Regions from separate parts of the Homo sapiens genome. Here region 2 is linked to region 1. Evidence: fine-mapped expression QTL. A gene starts in region 1. The other region holds a variant in brackets. All regions are shown on one strand. Distances are between the middles of the regions.

Evidence for each region. PIP is the estimated chance that this variant, and not a neighbour inherited with it, causes the effect.
Region 2: its variant is the best candidate, but not a certain one, in a credible set for the expression of ATP6V1C1 in whole blood (TOPMed, PIP 0.75).

What each region holds. Positions count from the first base shown.
Region 1 is chr8:103,015,849-103,026,634 of GRCh38, reverse strand. It overlaps ATP6V1C1 (ATPase H+ transporting V1 subunit C1), which reads right to left and starts at 5,552. Exons shown (of 13, transcript NM_001695.5): 1 at 5,410-5,552. It also overlaps the pseudogene NPM1P52. RefSeq lists an enhancer at 5,113-5,322.
Region 2 is chr8:103,056,147-103,064,146 of GRCh38, reverse strand. It overlaps ATP6V1C1 (ATPase H+ transporting V1 subunit C1), which reads right to left. Exons shown (of 13, transcript NM_001695.5): 9 at 1,100-1,192; 10 at 919-1,012. Among named protein-coding and RNA genes, the nearest start is that of ATP6V1C1, 39 kb to the right of the region's middle. The variant G/T (reference allele first, on the strand shown) is at 4,270.

The sequences.
Region 1 (10,786 bases):
CACCATGTTGGCCAGGCTGGTCTTGAACTCCTGACATCAAGTGATCCGCCCGCCCTTTGCCTCCGCTTCCCAAAGTGCTGGGATTACAGGCGTGAGCCACCACACCCAGCCCCGCCTTTCTTAAATAAATCTTAAATATTCCGTGTTTTGTTTTCAATGGAAACAATACCCATAAATGCTCTATAATCCTATTAAAACTACCATAATTTCTTGCCATAAATATACTTAAATATGAAAGGCAATTTAATCTTTATTAGACTCATTTTATCAACTACAATTTTTTTATTCCACATTTGCCTAGAAAGCAATCTGTAAAAGCAAAGCCTTACTTTCACACAGATACCTATCACAAAAACTGGAAACACACTGTGACATTGTGGAGTGGGGGCTGGGGATGTAATACATAATACAATGTTGGAAAATTTCTAGTAACTTCTGGTAAAGCTACTGAATTGGCAGACATGGCCAGGAGGGCCCTGTCGTACACCCATTACTGCAAGTAATCACCAAAACCTTCTCAGCTTCTAGAGACTCCTCCTCTGCACAGGCAACTCAGCGGTGACCCAGTGGGCAAATAATTCCTTCCATGCCAGGGGATTCCCTGAATCTACACTCATGGCTCCCAAAACATGACTTCCCTTTTCTTCATGGCTGGCAATTTATAATAGTGACTGGACCACGGTACCACATTCTGCTAGAAGGTGCTGATATCTCCAATACAATGTATTTTGGCCTGAAATTCACCAACTTAAAGACTTTAAGATTAGTTTTCTCCAACTCATGACCCTAAGTAAGCTTGAGATTCTGTTTACTGGTAACAACTATCACTGAATATGTACCACATGTTGTGCCCAGTGATAAGCACTTGCATCTACTAAAGCAATTTTGTATTTAATTCCCTCACAAGATGTGTTATCACCACCCCCACTTGCAAATGAGGGAACAGCTGGTGAAATTAGTTGCCCAAAGACATTTAGTGACTACATTTTATTGGGATTAAGGGGACTCTATTTGAGTTATTCATGCAGTTTTACAAAAGACAAGTGCCTCAAAGAAATATTAGGATATAGTTTCAGTAATTTTACACTAAAGGAGTTACATTAAAACATCAAACACTAGATTTTAAATTACTTGAATTCCATTATATGCAGTTTATTAAAATATTACTTTTAACCTCTGTAACCTCAACATCTTAATATTTGTCCAACAAATAAACTGACACCACATGCATGTTTTGCACCAAATGGTGCCTCTCTCCTCCAGGAGGAGTCTGGAAATGTATGGGAGCATTTTGGGTTGTCCCAATGTGGAGATCGCTAATCAGCATTTAGTGGGTAGGGGCGAAACAGACCTCCAAACTGCCAATAGCACCCACATAGAAACACTAAACTATGGGCTGATTCAAAAGGAAAACCTTTCATGGTAAAGTTAAACCACCTGTTAACACGCCTTAATTTACAACTTCCTATTCATTGATAGTCTGTTTAAAATATCTTAGAAGATCCATCGATCCCTTTCTATAAAACATCACTTACCTAGCATTTTATTTTCAAATACACACACATACTCACACAGACACACACACACACACCCCACATTTTAGATATACAGTTAATACTCTTTTATCCCCGATGTAACCAAAGCACTTCTCCTCCACTGCCTACCTGGCTCATTTTTTAACTCAATAAATGCATAGTAACCAAAGCACCTCTCCTCCACTGCCTACCTGGCTCATTTTTTTAACTCAATAAACGCATAGTACATTTGCACATGGTATAATCTTAGAAGTAGATGTCCTGCTGGATAAAAAATTTTGTTTCAGCATCAAGAATATAGTTTGAAATTTCTAGTTCCAAGAATCACTCATGTCAATAGGAAATTTTAGACTGCCTTGGTTCACTGCCTAAGCGTCCCAAGGGCACTATGCTAATGTTTATACTATGTCTGTCTTTAAAAATTGATGAAAAATGGAAATCTAACATGAATTAATTTATAAATGATATATAATTCCACACCCAAAGAGTGAAAAAGATGTAACCTGTAGACAGATTTAAATATGTACAAGAGCAAAATTTTAAGTAGGAGGTACTCAGTCAAAACTGTAGTACTCCTAAGCAGAACCAAGTTCAAAAGAAGACTTGCTGCTTAGGGACGGGTAAACTACATGGAGACCTTTGGCAAAGGTTTACTTTGGCATTCCAGTTGGCCAATGGTATTATCTCGTGAGTTGTGGAAATAATCACAAAATCAGATTTTTGAAGCCCTGAAGTTTCTTTTTAGGTTGAAAAAACTAATGTACATGAGGCTCCTAAGACTAATATACCAAAAAAATAAAAATGAGTATTTTGTGCCAAGTTTTAAAAGCTGAATTACACTATCTAGCTCTCAGCATTTAGTTAGATCCTGAGTACTGTTTCTTTAGATTTTATCTAGTCCCTACAAGGTATACCAAAAGAGAAAAAGATCCAGGACTTCTGAGACAGAACCCTGAGGCTCAGTCTTCAGCATAATTTGAGACTCACTTTTTGCCAAAGAACTGTGATTGACAACCTGAGCACTTTCAGTTCACCTTATTGTTCATTATTTCCTCCAGATGAACTGTAAATTGAACAGCTCTATCCAAGATTATAGATAAGACATAGCCCACCACTGCCAATTCCTTTGAAGCTGTTCTACTAGAAAAAGTTCATCAAAAGTGCTGACTCTTCAGGGAGAAGTTCCCCCCCCCCAAAAAAAAATGCTGAATCAAAGACTACTGTGCACTTCAAAAAACTCGCCCTTTTCTCTAGATGTGACTGTGGTTAGTACTGTGTAGGTAATCAGCAGGAATACATCAGCAGTCAGAAAACTGTGGCAGTTACTCCGGACTCAGCCAAATCACTTTACGTGTTTCTCTAGCTCCAGGTTCCCATCTATACAATGAATAGCATTTTCATCCACTGTCTTTCAAAGAACTGTGAGAACAAAATAAATATGAAAGTGATCCCTCCCTGTAACTATATTTCAATAAAAGATATTCTGAAATAGATGACCTTACAAAAGGATAAATTTGAAAAGCCAAAACAAATTTTTGCAAAAGAGCCTCTGCTATGTACTTCAGGACTGCCTCGAGGGTAGTTACGACTACCCTGTGAAGGGTACAAATAGAATCGAATCATTCTTTCCCTTCCCCAAGTCCTGAACCCTCTAAAAGTGAATACAGTTAAACATTCTGAAGTCCTCAGTGGAGAGAGAAGGTATCTTGTCTTCAAATCCTTCAGTGGATTACAACAATGTTCCCCTGAGCGGGTCTCCCCTCATTCACTTTTGCCACCCTCCACATTATCTCCCCCCCACCAAAAAAAAAAAAAAAAAGCCACAACCTGTCTCAATCCACTGCCTGTAATCTTCACTGGCTTCCCTCTGTTTTTAGAATAAAAGCTCTGCTTGGCGTGACCCCAGCTTTCTCCACCTGCCTCTCTCCCTCCCCGTTTCAGCCATGCTAGCCTTTCAAAAAGGCTGAAAAGCTTTCTTCCTCTTCACATTTCAGGGCCTTGACATACGCTGTTGCTTCAGCCTGAAATGTTCCTTTTTCGTTTTTCAGAGACAGGGTCTAGCTCTGTTTCCCAGGAGGGAGTGCAGTGGCATGATCACAGCTCACTGCAGCCTCGAACTACTGGGCTCAAATGATCCTCTCGCCTCAGCCTCCCGAGCAGCTAGGACTACAAGCACACACCACCACTCCCAGCTAGTTATTTTTTTATTTTTGGTAGAGACGGTGGTCTCACTATGTTGCCCAGGCTGGTCCTGAACTCCTGGCCTCAGGCAATCCTCCCACCTCAGCCTCCCAAAATGTTGGGATTATAGTCACGAGCCACCCTGCCAGGCCTGGAATGTTCTTTTCACTCACACCTTCACATTCCCTTTTCAGTCTCTTTTCAGATCTCAGGTCAAAAGTCATACCCTCTCAGAGCGAGAGGGTATGAAGAATATAAATAAAATTGTTTTAATCTTTAAAAAGTCATATTCTTAGCAATGCCTTTTTAAAATCTTCCATAATACACATGCCCCTACTACACTCTTTCATACCACTGTTATTCCTTCAAAGCACATTTCACGCTTGCTTGATTTTTAAAATCCATCCCCTCTGCTTGCCTGTAAGCTCTATAAAGACAATTTTCTAAACCCTACCATCAGCACTGTACCTGCATACAGCATGTATTCAGTACACATTATTTGCATGAATAAGTAAACGACTACCATTCAAAAGTCCTCGTTACCTGACTCCCAACTTTCTTTCCCACTTCTCCGCAGTGCAATCCACTGTAAAAGCTACTTCTGACTCCACCAGAAGCATTCCCTACCCCCATCTTCAGGCTTTCAAATCCTGTGGCTTTCCCTGCCTGTAAAATTATCCCCATTTCTCTCAACCTGTTCAAATCCTGAGGGCTTGCCAAGACTCAAGTTTTCTTTCCTCCAGAATATCTTCCCATAGTGCCAGTTTACACATGTGTCGTTGCTCCACACTTTCAAAGCACTTCGCATTCTCTTTTTGGTAAGTATACATAAACTGCATCGTATTTTAACGTGTCCTGTGTGTAGACTTTTCTCTCCAACGTTAGTGCTAACTCCTAAGGATAGACTGTTCACATCCCACCCGTTCCATTCCCAGAGCGGCGCTAAGTACTGGGCTCGCACTGAAGCATGTGATTTTTCCCTAACATACCAGAATTTTCCTCTGAAAAGAATACTAGCTTCCCCCTTACTCCTGTTTCTCAAGTGATTCAATATGCCTTATGTGACTCTCACCAAGTTCTTTTCTAGGGGTTTGTTTTGTTTTGTTCTGTTTTGTTTGCCTACCCTCCCCCATTCTACTAAAAAATAGTTGAGTTCTCTGGATTCCTGTTCTTTCTCATTCCTAGAGGGACCTTGTGTACTCTGTGAGGGTTCCTTGCCTGCAGTTAGGGGCTCCTAGGCCTTTAAACTGTCATCCCACCACCCCCGACCCCCGACACCCGCGCCCCCCCCAACACACACCCAGTGAAGGCACTTGCGCTAGCTGTGACCTCACACACACCACTCCATAGCCTCACCTGGACCTATCACTTCATTCCCCTCAATCAATCAGGCGGCGTGCATTCCTACCCAAGAAGAAAGATCCCAGACCGCTGTATCTCTCCTTTCTGCCTGTCATTAACTACCCACGAGAGCTCTTTCTCTTTTTCCCTCCTTCTCTTCCTTAGAGACGGAACCTAGGCCCAAGACGGTGAATTGGCGCCGAGAAACCAGACACAGCCACCCAGCCAGCTCCAGCTCCAACGCCACGGTCTCTGCCCCCGCACCCACCCGCGTCCCTCCCAGGCAGCGACCGGAGCTCATGCTTCGGCCTGACCAGGACTCCCCATCCGGGGAGAGCCATCGCTCACTGACCCAGGAAGGTGTCAAACGAGGAAGTAGCAGCAGTAACAGGTACCGAGGCAGACAGCCTAGCGGACGCTATCGGCTCAGCGATCCATCCCTTCCCGACCTAAGCTCCGGCCTCACGGCTTCCTCTACCCAAGCGAACACAGAACAAGTCACGTGCCAGCCCAGCAGTCAGCTGACCGCGGCGCGCGCTGCTCCGCCTACGCCCGCGCCACTGCGCAGCCGCAGCCGCTGCCACTGCCGGGCCTTGGGAGAGGGGCGGGACTAGGAGGCTACGGGGCGGCAAGGGGACCCTATATTCGGGGCTGATCGCTGTTGTTCCAGAGTGGGTGGGGTTTTCCGCTTCTTCCAGTGTTGCAAGTGGCGTTTTGTCCACCACTTGTAAACGTCAGCGCCACTGCAGGTTTCTGCGGGTCAGAAATTGTCTCCAACCCCCTACAAGGGCTTCTCCACTTGGGGTTTTCTTCGTCAGCTGGGTTTTCTACCTAGTATACTGGCTAGTAGTTCATTTTAGCAGATTCACATTTTCCTGAAGTCCACTTAGACTTAATTTCATAAATGGTCCATGGAGCATTTACTGTGCGCCAAGCACTGCGCTCGTTCTTAGGATTGCCTACTGGAGAGAATCACTCCTTGCCACGAAAGCGCCTCATAGATAGTTGAAACCACATTAGATAGTGGGAAACCAAAGGTTTTAGGACAGAGGCATAGACAGGGGAAAGCATCTCCTTTGGAGAAAAATAGGTAACAAGCTCCTCCCAGGAACCCTGCTTATTTCATTAGCTTGGGGAGATAGATAGTAATGTCCTAATTTAGAACACAGAGTTTTAGAAGTAGTAGAAATTTTGAGATGTTCTAATTTAATCCTTTTAGATCTACAGATGAAGAAAGTGAGGGCACGGAGTTGTTCAGCGCAAGGGAATAGATACCAGGTGTTGAATCCAGGCTCTCCTACTTACTAGTTGTGTGACCTTACTCCTCTGAATTTCAGCCTGTTCACATGCAAAGTGGTGGTAATAATACCTTACACAGGTATTGTGAGGATTAAATGAAGCCTGTGGTTAGCACAGTGCCTGGTACATAGGAAACAACCAGTAAATGGTCGTCATTATTACTATGTATTATAGGACCCAGGTTTTCTGACCTATACTATGCCTTTTCTGCTGTGTCCCCCTACAGAAATTCACCACAGAATTTCTCAGAGCCTCAGTATTAGGTTGGACAGAAAGTAACAACCACCAGACTATCCCCAACCTGACGCTTTCACCAGTTTTGGATGAAGTTCATGCAATTACAATAACCAGTTCTATAACATGGCTTCAGAAACTTATCAGAATTCCAGAGGCTTTTATCTGCCATCACGAAATGAGCCTAAAGGCATTTTTTTTTTGGTTAGGTCCACTAAAACTTTCTGCCATGATGCAAATGTTATCCTGTGCTGTCTGTACAGTACCCACTAGCTACATGGAGCCATTGAGCACTTGAAATATGGTTAGTGTGACTTAGTAACTGAATTTTAAAATTTATTTCACTTTAATTAAAATTTAAATAGCCACATGAGACCAGTGACAACAGCCTTAGACAGTGCAGTTTTAAGGTCCATGCTTGAACTATCTTGGTTTCTTCGTGCTTGTGTGTGGTCCTGAGGCAGACTTTTTGTCTTGGATTCTTAATTTCTAAACTGAATTATACCTCGCGCAACTTTCCAACATTTGGGGTTTTTTTTTTAGTTTTGGGGTTTTTTTTGAGATGGAGTCTCGCCCTGTCGCCCAGGTTGGAGAGCAGTGGTGCGATCTCAGCTCACTGCAAACTCCACCTCCCGGGTTCAAGCGATTCTTGTGCCTTGCCCTCCTAAGTAGCTGGGACTACAGGCGTGCACCATCACACCCAACTAATTTTTGTATTTTTAGTAGAGACGGGTTTTCCTCATGTTGGCCAAGCTGGTCTCCAAGTCCTGAGGTCAAGTGATCTGCCCACTTGGCCCTCCCAAAGTGCTGGGATTACAGGGGTGAGCCATCGTGCCTGGCCTCCAGTGTTTTAATTACCATGTTATACTTGGGAGGCAGTACAACAGAGTGTTCAATAAATGTTAGCTCTAATTTTTATGAGGTTTAATGTATCTCACTTAAAAATTTAGGAAACATAGCTGGGCATGGTGGTGCATGCCTATAGTCCCAGCTACTCGGGAGGCTGAGGTGGGAGGACCCCTTGAGCCCAGGAGTTCGAGGCTGCAGTGAGCTAAAATTGCACCATACACTCCAGCCTGGGCAACAGAGCAAGACCCCATCTCAAAAAATCAAATAAAAATCTAGCAAAGATGTTTAATATAAGCAGGGCATGATTGCTCTCCAGTGGTTTCTAATAGTAAAGTAATATGTTTTTACAGAGAAGCAACTCACTTTTTAAAAACTGTACTATGCATAGAAGCATACTAGGTAGCCATGGGCATGTCACACCTTTTCCTCCATTTCCACCTATCTAAAGACTACTCATCTCCAAACATCTAAGTTTAAAGCACTCCTAAGATGCATGGGAGAAGATTTATTTTTTTCTTACAACTTTTTCCGGGGAAAAAATTTATTTTTTCCTTTATTAAAATATTGAGCTTATTTCAGTTACATATTTTTGTCTTCCCACCATTTCCATTTGTCTGACCACAGCTACTACTATGTCCTATCATAATATTCCATACATACATATATACTGAAAACCAAGCAAAGAGCCAGGCGTGGTGGCTCACACCTGTAATCCCAGCACTTTGGGAGGCTGAGGTGGGCAGATCACTTGAGGCCAGGAGTTTGACACCTTCCTGACCAACATGGCAAAATGCCATCTCTACTAAAAATACAAAAATTAGCTGGGTGTGGTGGTGCATGCCTGTAATCCCAGCTGCTTGGGAGGCTGAGGCAGGAGAATTGCTTGAGCCTGGGAGCCAGAGGCTGCAGTGAGCCAAGATAGTGCCACTGCCCTCCAGCCTGAGTGACAGAGCAAGACTCTGTCTCAAAAAAAAAAACAAGCAAACGATGGAGTTTCATCTTTAAAAACTACAGGGGCATTTTGGACAACACATTTTTGGCAATGGAACCTGGACAATATTTATCCAACGTGCTAGGGAACTTCTCACTCTGAATTGTAAAAAGGACAGTTAGATATCAACTGTTACAGAAATGAAATGACAGATAATTTTTTTCTCTAAAAGAACTATTAACGAAATGACAGGTAATTTTTTTCTCTAAAAGAACTATTGGGTTAAAAGATTTAAAAAAAAAAAGAAGAAAGAAAATTTTAACAAGCTGTTTAAACTATTTTTTTTTTTTTTTGAGACAGAGTCTCACTCTGTTGCCCATGCTGGAATGCAATGGCGTGATCTCTGCTCACTGCAACCTCTGCCTCCCAGGTTCAAGCGATTCTCCTGTCTCAGCCTCCCAAGTAGCTGGGAATACAGGCATCCACCACCACGCCTGGCAAATTTTTTGTATTTTTATTTATTTATTTATTTATTTTTGGAGAGACAAGGTTTCACCATGTTGGCCAGGCTGGTTTTGAACTCCTGACCTCAAGTGATCTGCCCACCTTGGCCTCCCAAAGTGCTAGGGTTACAGGCATGAGCCACCACGCTTGGCCTAAACTGTGTTCTTAAAGAGACTTCTTCCACTGCCAGAGATGGTGAATAGCCTCCTAGTTGGTCATCCAGAAGTAATTCTTCACATAATTGATGCACTTAGCTTTGGGAAGAGAACCAACTTTTTCTATACTTGCTTGCATTTTTGCTTTTAATATATTCTACAAAACTAGGTCCTTTTGGTGTTTTAAGAGGTTTTTTCCCCCTGTTTTTGAAGGATTCTTGACCTTTTGGTCTTAATCTTGATAGTTCTGAGTCTTTTTTATTTTGGTTTGATCTTTGTGCATTTTTTGGATGGAGTATCCTGTATAAATTTCATCACTAGAGCTTTTTCTTCAGTTTTCCCTTCATCAAAATGTTCTTCCTCTTCATCATCATCATGATTTTCATCAGCAAGAAGTTTTATTTTTTTCTTGTAGAAATGTACCCACTTCCAGGGGCAGATCACTTTCCAGATATACTGAAAAGTCTCACATCTCCCTCCTCTTCATGTCCTGCTTTGTATCTTCCTTCATACCTGTTAAGTGCTGTGTACTCATATGCCCAGGCCCTGAAACACACTGAGTGTAAGGCCACAGGCAATGTTATTTCAAAGCCCCCAAGATAAACCATTGACTGTACATACCTTTTTAAAGTTGCTAGTATTACTTTAATTGGACTGCCTTCATAGTTCATTACTTCTGCTTCAACAATATAAAATCCATCCTTTCTACCAGCCCCTAAACTGACCATTCTTAAAGATAACTTGTGCTCATTTTCATCATTATCCACCTTAAAGTGATAATCTTTGTTGGCCTCTAGTCACAACCAAAAAGATAGTTCTGGGGCCTCAGGAGGCTGATGTCCATGTCCGTCAAATCTTCCATGGGTGGCGGCAAGCACTTAGGTAGGAGAGAAGCCAGGCAGAGGTAAACAACCACGCTCCAGAGAACAGCTGTGCAGGATGGAATCATACCAGCAACCAATTATTTTGTTTTTTGATTACTGTTTTCTTTTTTTAATTTTTTAAATATTTTTTAACTTTTATTTTAAGTTCAGGGGTACGTGCGCAGGTTTGTTACATAGGTAAACTTGTGTCAAGGAGGTTTGTTGTACAGATTATTTCATCACCCAGGTATTAAGCCTAGTATCCATTAGTTAAACAAAGTGGAGAAAGTATTTGAAGCAAATAGGGCAACAGGATTCAGAACTCTTTTTCACTCTGGTATAATAGTCAAGATATCTTGAAAGTTGTTACTGGCATTTCCCTTAGGAAACTAAGTGTCCTTGTTTAAGAAAATACCTTGATAAACTAATATCTTCCACTAGGGTGGAAGAAAAACTGAGAGTATGGTTAAATGGAGGCAAAGACCAAAGAAATAACTTGAGCTAGTTTCCACTGAAAAGCAACAGAAATTGGAGAATGAAGAGATGGGAGAGAGGCATAGGGAAGAGAAGGAAAGAAAGAGAAAAGAGAAAGACAAATGACAAGGGACTTATAAAAAGAGGAATATTTAGAACTCAATTTGAGCTTACTTCAGTTGCTGTGATTTAAATCCTTTGCCATCTTCCCAGAGCTTTAATAAAGTCTACGCTCAAATGCCTTTATGCAAAATTCTTTTGTAGACATATATGCTATCCAGGTTATAATATACAGAGAGCTTGAACAAATTGATAAAAGCAATACTAAGGGCTGAGCACGGTGGCTCATGCCTGTAATCCCAGCACTTTGGGAGGCCAAGGAAGACGGATCACTTGAGGCCGGGAGTTTAAGACCAGCCA
Region 2 (8,000 bases), 39 kb before region 1:
GCGGATTTCAAATACCTCCTCTCTCCATACTTAAAAGATTCAGCTAACACTTCCTTGGATAACATTATTAGGCTCATTTGGATGTACCAAACAATTAATTTAAGCAAAAGGATAGCAAAACAAGTGAAAATCTTGTCAAAATATCTATTTTTTAAAAGGATTTTGGGTTTGCCCTAAAAAGCTGGTTATTTTGACATTACTTGGTTAGAATGAGTTTCCTCCTAGTTGAGATGATATGGCTTATAAAGTACTTGGAAATAATTTTCAATATTTCCCTTAATTTCCTCTTACATTATTAAGAGAAACACATTTTCACTCATTATGTTTCCCTTTCCAAACAAGCTTTTAGTCTTCACAGTAATCCCACACTTGAAGATGGCAAGAAAGTTAACACCATCTTTGATTTTCACAATTCCACTCGTTTCCCATTACACCTAGAACACACCAATTCTCCAATAGCTTAAATACAAATTGCTTCAATAAAAGATTGAGGCATTGAAAAAATCTGCCTCAAGAAAGTGAAAAGTCTTACTGAAAAGAACTTCGTTACTTAACTAAAATCACCCTTCACCTACAAGGATGTTAACCAGAATACTGCATTTAAAATTAATGTCTGATATGGATTTAGGTGGAGTAATTTCTTTTTAAGTATGTATTTTAGGATAACTATTCTATCTACTCTATTCTATCTCAGATAGACATAAGCTTTAGAAGAAAGCTTTCTTAGAAATAGAATAGTTATCTCTAGAACAGTTAAGCTTTAGAGGAAATTCATTCTGATTATTCAATTAAAAAAAAAAACTAAAATCAAATGTCTTAAAACCAAAGCAGATTTTTACTTTCTTTTAAATCAAAGGAAAGCAATACCACTTTTTCTTCTGCTTAGTACTGATAATACTAAATATTAAAAACACATACAAATTGTTTTTTCTTATCAGTAGAAAGCCTGTTCATTTCTTCTTTATCTGCTTTCATCTCCTCTTCATTATACTGGAAGTCACGAACAATGAATCTAAATTTGGGGGAAAAAAAACAAAATTGTTCACATTGTATACAGCTGATCTAACAAAGTAAATAAACAAAAAAACAATAATCTTACTTGTTTTCTCTGGCTTTGTGTCTGAAGTCATCAACTGCCTTCCTAAACAAGGTGACATTACACAGGTAACTGTCTTGGTCCTCTGAAAGAACACTATGGAAAAAAAAAAAGTCCATTTAAAGATTTATACGTATTGCTGTCTTTCATATTAAGGGCAAAATTCAGAAACAGGTGGAAGAGAAAAGTAGGGTATAATAGCCCTTCCCAAATCACCTCAATGCTTTTCAATCTGGATTGCCTCAAACACCGAAGATACTGAATGTTTATGATTTATTTTGCTTATGATACCTTAACACTCTACATTTATTTCTTACTAACCAACAAAATTAGACATTAACTCCAGTAAAGCATCCAAACGCTAAGAACCACACTTTTCAATCAACATCAGCGCCAAGCTGCTTTGTTTCCAGTGTCTCCTTGATAAGCACACTCTTCTTTTCTGGAAGCCTAATTCTTTCTTCCTTTCTCCAGGCCAACTCAGCCCCACTGATGCCCAGCCTAGCCTCTCTGCATTGCCAGTACCTTAAACCTTGGATCTTTCCTTTGCTCCCATGACATCTCTCAATCAAAAACTGACAGGCTGGGTGCAGTGGCTTATGTCTGTAATCCCAACACTTTGGCAGGCTGAGGTGGGTGATTGCTTGAGTTCAGGACTTTGAGACCAGCCTGGGCAACATGGCAAGACTGTGTCTGTACAAAAAATACAAAAACTAGCCAGGCGTGATGGTGCATGCCTGTAGTCCTAGCTACTCGGGAGGCTGAGGTGGGAGGATCACTGGAGCTGGGGAGGTTGAGGCTACAGTGAGCTGAGATTGCACCACTGCACTCCAGCCTGGGTGACAGAGTGAGTCCCTGTCAAAAAAAAAAAAAAAAAAAAAAAAAAAAACCCTGATGAACACAACTGTCTAAATAATCTCTGAATAAAAGTGCCTGTATGCATCTCATGGCTCCATTTTAGGCTTTAGAAGGTCCCAGTGAGGTCAGAACTTCCATTCAGTCACAGCTCCATGGACATCACTAGAAAGACCTTTCCAGACACAACTGCCAGGTAATTTTAATGGTCATTTAAATCTGTAATACCTTGGGTGAAAGTCCACTGTTTGAAAGGTGAATGGTATCGCTTGTGATAGTATGGTCCAAATTTGGCTTTCAGAATTTACCTATAGTGCCTCCTGTATAGAAGTCCTTATGTGAGGTCCACAAGGCTGCACAGGCAGCTGTTCCACAGCGATAACCTTGGGGCAGGGGAATGTTACTGAGGGGAATCTCTTCTCCTTTCTGTCTTTCACATACTGGAGTTCTTCTAATGTTTAGTGTTTTTTAAACAGCTTTACTGAGATATAATCGTTATACAGAAAACTGTACGCATTTAATGTCTATAATCTGAAGTGTGGACATACGCATATACCCATGAAACCATCACCACAATCTAGACAATAAACATACCCCTCACTACCAAAAGGGTCCTTGTGCCCTTTTGTTGGTTGTTTTCTTTGTTTTTTAATGTTCAGTTTTACAATGTGGTACTTCTGAAATCAGAAAAAGGAAATTTTACAAAATGGAGGAATGCTGGGGAATTTAAAGATACTATATTAAAAAAATGTTTAAAGCAAGTGTAGTTTTTCCTGAAGCCTAAGAACCACCTGTTTAGCCAAGTAAATTCAGGAGGCAATTACAGTGTTAATCACAGAATGGCTTTAAGTACTGAATCTACCCTACTCCTCGTCAGCCAGCCAGCAGGGGCACCTCCCTAGTGTATGACCAGCAGACACCTCCAGGAGTACTGATCACTGTAATCGCTGACATGCAGAGAAAACTCAAGTACTCTGGATTTAGAACCTCCTGTTAAACTGTATCTTCTCAAAATGATTACCCTTAATTCTTGCTCCTGGTGTCCATCAAACCCAATGAAGGGCAGCTACCAAGTGGACAGAGCTCGATTTAAAAAACCGTTTAAGGATCTTCTGCTTTGCCAAGATTTACTCAGTGATGTGTGAACTGCTTGAGATCAAAACAAATCCAAATCTAACTTGACAGGCTATTTCAGGGCCACAAATAATGTTTTACTGTTATCATAGTAATCTTTTAAACTTATCCAACACTTTGCTGTTTTGAAGACCCTTCCAAAAGCATTTGGTGCTTGACATGGCCCTGTGTCAATGAACAGGTTACCTATTAAGCAGGTTCCTAGCTATTGTGCAGAGATCTGGGACACAGCAAATTCCTATGGCTTACTCAAAATCCTGATGGTGAAAAAAGCCAAGATAAAACCTCCATCTTATCTTATAACTAAATCCTACTATGCCACCTTATTATGAAAAACAAATAAAAGCCACTTGCTTTCCCTCTTTCCCCTAAGGAAAGGTATTTCTTAAAACTGTTTAAAAAATAAACCACGAGTCCTTACTATAACAGACTTGTAGTCATTTAACATGTACTGAGACTCTGTAATGCAAGCACTTGCTAGATATTAGTATAAAACTAAGACAGCATTTCCTGATCTCCAGGTATGGGTTTAGTAAAGGAAACAGGCATACACAAGTAACTGCAATATAGAGTTGTAAGTGCTGCAATAGAAAATATACATGATACACTGGGGAATTAGTAACTTTATCTGAGGGGATTCAAAGGAGTTTCACCAAAGTGGTGATACCAGGTGGAAGTTTGAAAGAAAGACAAAAAAGAGAAGAACGTTCCAGACAGAACCCCATATGCAAATGAATATAGATGTGGAATAACATGGTGCATCTGAGGAATTGCCAGAAATAAGTATAACCGGGGCTCAGCATGGTAGCTCATGCCTGTAATCCCAGCACTTTGGGAGGCCAAGGTAGGCAGATCACTTAGAGGTCAGGAGCTCGAGACCAGTCTGGCCGACATAGTGAAACCTCACCTCTACTAAAAATACAAAAATCAGCTGAGTGTGGTGGCACATGCCTGTAATCCCAGCTACTTGGGAAGCTGGGGAAGGAGACTCACTTGAACCCGGGAGGCAGAGGTTGCGGTGAGCCAAGATCACACCTCTGCACTCCAGCCTGGGTGAGAGAGACTGTGTCTCAAAAAAAAAAAAAAAGAAAGAAAGAAAAACAATATATATATACATATATGGCTGGGACATAGGGTACAAGAAGAGGGTGTGTGGGTGTGTGGGTGTGTGTGTGTGTGTGTGC[G/T]TGCTGGGGGCAGGCAGTCAAAATGGGGAGGGACAAGCAGGGTTTTAGACGGGAAAGCAACACATTTGTATGTCACAAAGATGAAAACAGCAGCAATGTGGAGGACTGATGAGAGGAGAAAAGGAGACCAGCTAGGGTCAATTACCATGGTCCAGGCAAGGGATGAGGGAGTCAGAGCTGGAGCAGTGGCAGTGGGTCTTGGGGGAGTGGGGAGAGTAGATTTAACCCTATGAAATTGTAGATATTTGACCATTTTCTGACCTACAAAACATCAATTTTTAACGGTTCAACCAAATACTATGGAAGGTGGAAATGACATAACTGATTAGACTATTTCAGGTGGGGGGCCGGTGGGGGGAGGGGGGTGCAAGGGCAAAGGAAGATTCCAAAATCACTGACTACCACACTTGCGGTTTGGATCACTGGGCAGATGTTGCTGCCATATACTACAGGGCAACTAGAGAGTTTGAGTCTGAGATTGGGGTGATAGTGTCAGTTACCTAGGAAATACCACATGGAGTGGTCCAGTAGGAACCAGGTATGTGGTTGGGGGGAAGGCTGGCTACAGACGAAGATTTAGCAGTCCGAAAACTGCAGGTGAGGCTAGAGCCATGGGTGTGGTTGAAGTGGTACTGACAGGAGAACAGACCATCTCCCTCAGAAACTCTGAAACATAGAGAAACTTCTGGACAGTGGCCAGTATCATTCTTCCTGCACTTCTTAGCTAGGCTCCTCTGCTTCACTGGGGACTCCAGATCCCTAAAGAAAAACCTCTGTGAAGCATCCATGAGTTTGTGATGTTGCTTCCAATGACAGAGAAAAGGCAAAAGTTAACCAGTGATCTGACTCAATCAGACTATTTTAACAAGCAAAAGCAGACAAAAAAAAAAAAAATAGGAAAGTGGTAATTCTGAAAGGACAAGTGAAAAGCACCTCTTTCTGAACAGTGTTTCAACAAAAAAAAGCAGAACAGCAGCACAGCCTCCACTTCTTTGGCCACAGCCTTGGCATGGCATTTATACACATTGCTGCATTTAGCCTCACAGCAATGGTAGTATTTCAAAACCGTCCAATCTTTGTAGAATATTTTATAAATAGTTATATTTTGTGAACTTTAAAATTCTTTCAGGTTTGAGGACAGTTAGAAGAATAGATTGAAAAATATTAGATTGAATATTAAAGTGAATATTTTTCAATCTACCTCAAAATTCCACTTTCATCTTCACTGCTCCCAACAATAATCACTCAAGTTATCATACCAAAAAGTAATGTGTTACTACCTATAATTAATTAACTTGTGTAAAGCACATAGAACAAAGACTAGCTCACAGTAATTACTCAAAAATGCTGGTTGTGATGATAAGCCAAAAATTCAGCATCAGGTCATAGAGATCTTTCCTAAATGGCAGACAATATTCCAGGCTCACTCAAAAAAGCCTATTTGCCCCTACATGAACTGCACATACTCTTGATGGTGCTATTTGAGCTAGTGCTATGTTCTCTCTGACTAAATTTAAACAGGTAAGTTTTTGAGTCAGTGATTCCAAATGTACTTTGAACTGAGAAATAGGTAGAAAAGATGTTTTCACTGAGCAAGGAAAGGCTGGAAGCTCTCGGAAGATTAGTGTGCACTTACAAGTCACTTGCAAACAAGTCTTGACTGCATTAAACTGTTCCCTTCCTGAAATTTGCCCTTTAAACTACTAAAGTGACTGTCCAAAGATCTAAATCTCTGATGGAATATTTTTAAAGTCTTTCTATCAGAGTAAATCTGAGCTTACTTAATGAGCCTACAGACCATCCCCCTGGACATCTGGGTTGGCGTATGTCCATCTCTGGAGGACATTCTGGGTGCACCACGTCCTCACTCTCCTCCTCTACCTGCCTCCTAGACACAGAGTCAACCTCTACGGCTCTAATGCCCTAAAGATCTGTCAGTATCAACAGCCTAAGTGAGCCATCAATATCAAGACACAACTGTAGTCTTCAGTTTACCATGTGAAGAGCTGGTATGAAGGAAAGATATTCCTCCAAATGAAAAAAAAAACATTCATGATGAGCACAAGTTTGTTGTTAAGTTCCTAAAAGATCAACATTTGTGAAAATACAGTAACATTATCTTGTATTTTGAATACTCCATTAAGTCTTAAAATAACTTCATAATATATACAAGGAAGGTGCTATGCTCCATTTACAGACAAAGAAAATGAGGCCCAGAGAAGTTAAAAGACTTACCCCAGGTCACACAGCAAGTTGGTAGCAGAACTGAGGCAGGAAATAGGGTCTGGAGGCAGGGAACCTAAGGTTGTTTCACCCCGGTTTCCTAGAACTAAATTGAAAGGAAAACCCTAACTTTCCACGCCTAAGTAACAAAAGGACCAGAGGCTACTCCTTTTGACCTTTCCTGCATGGCAGATGGGAAATTGGCTGTCTGCAACAAATCAGACTGATTGGGAGGCCGAGTCTTCATTCGCATAGAAGTATAACTTTGTAACTTCACCCTAGCCTCTGATTAGTTGCCTTCTGCAACCAATCAGATATTTGCACAGGAGTGTGACCTTTGTAACTTCACTTCAGCCTCTGGTTGGCTGCTTTCTGCAACCAATGAGGCTCACTGCAGGCTACCACGTCATTTACATGAGGTGAGCATGAAGTGGCCAATGGGAAACTTGTAGGAGTTATTTGGACCCAAGAAGATTCTGTATCCAGGCCCTTGAGCCACTGCTCAGGTCTGCTCCTACACTGTGGAGTGTACTTTCTTTCATTTTTAATAAATCCCTGCTTTCGTTCTTTTGTTGCTTCATTCTTATTTTGCTTTGCTGGGCATTTTGTCCAATTTTTTGTTCAAAACACCAAGAACCTGGACAACTCGAAGTCACAACCCTACCAGTGACGGACCCTACCAGTGACAGACTCTACTGGTGACAGAACCAGCAATAGAACTCAGATCCCTGAGTCCAGGACTCTTTCCATCATACTAAGCTACTTCCCACATGACACAATGAAACTGGAAAAGAAAATATTTCATGGGCCTGACCTTACTAATTCCACTTCTTTACTGCCTCCTATATCTTCCACCCTGCTGCCTCCCCTTGAAGCACATATATATCTATAAGAATCCTTTGGGGTGGAGATACACTGTATTTATATTTTCTCAAAGAATATCTGGTGTGGCAATGGCAGAACACAGAAAAATGACATGGAATAGTGTTAAAAGGGTACAGGACCTGGAGCTAAAAGATGTGAGTTCTAGCCCTAACTCTGCCATTGGACACTTTACACAGCCATATGCCTCAGGCAACTATTTAAGCATTTTAACTTCTTCTTCCTTGAGAATAAGAATGATAACTGTCCATACTTCTTCACAGACTTGTTGTAAATTTCAAATTAGACAATGCATGTTAAATCTATAAATTTAAAAAGTGCTTAATAAAAACAGGTTTGTTTTTTAAATAAAAGGAACACACAAATTAGGTAAAATCTAAGCTCAAAGTGATGGTGAACATCTGGAGATCAACACGGCAGTCCAGTAGCCATTCTGGTACACTTCCTTTGCCAAGTAAAATGAGGAATTATAGACACATAGTAGGTATGCAATAATGAATAAAGAATTTTCAAAAGGCAGCACAGTGAGGCAGAAAAAGTACCACACCAAAGACCTAGGTTCTAGTTCTAGCCCTGCCACAAATGAGATGTGTGATCCTGGGCAAACTATTAATACCTCACTGGCC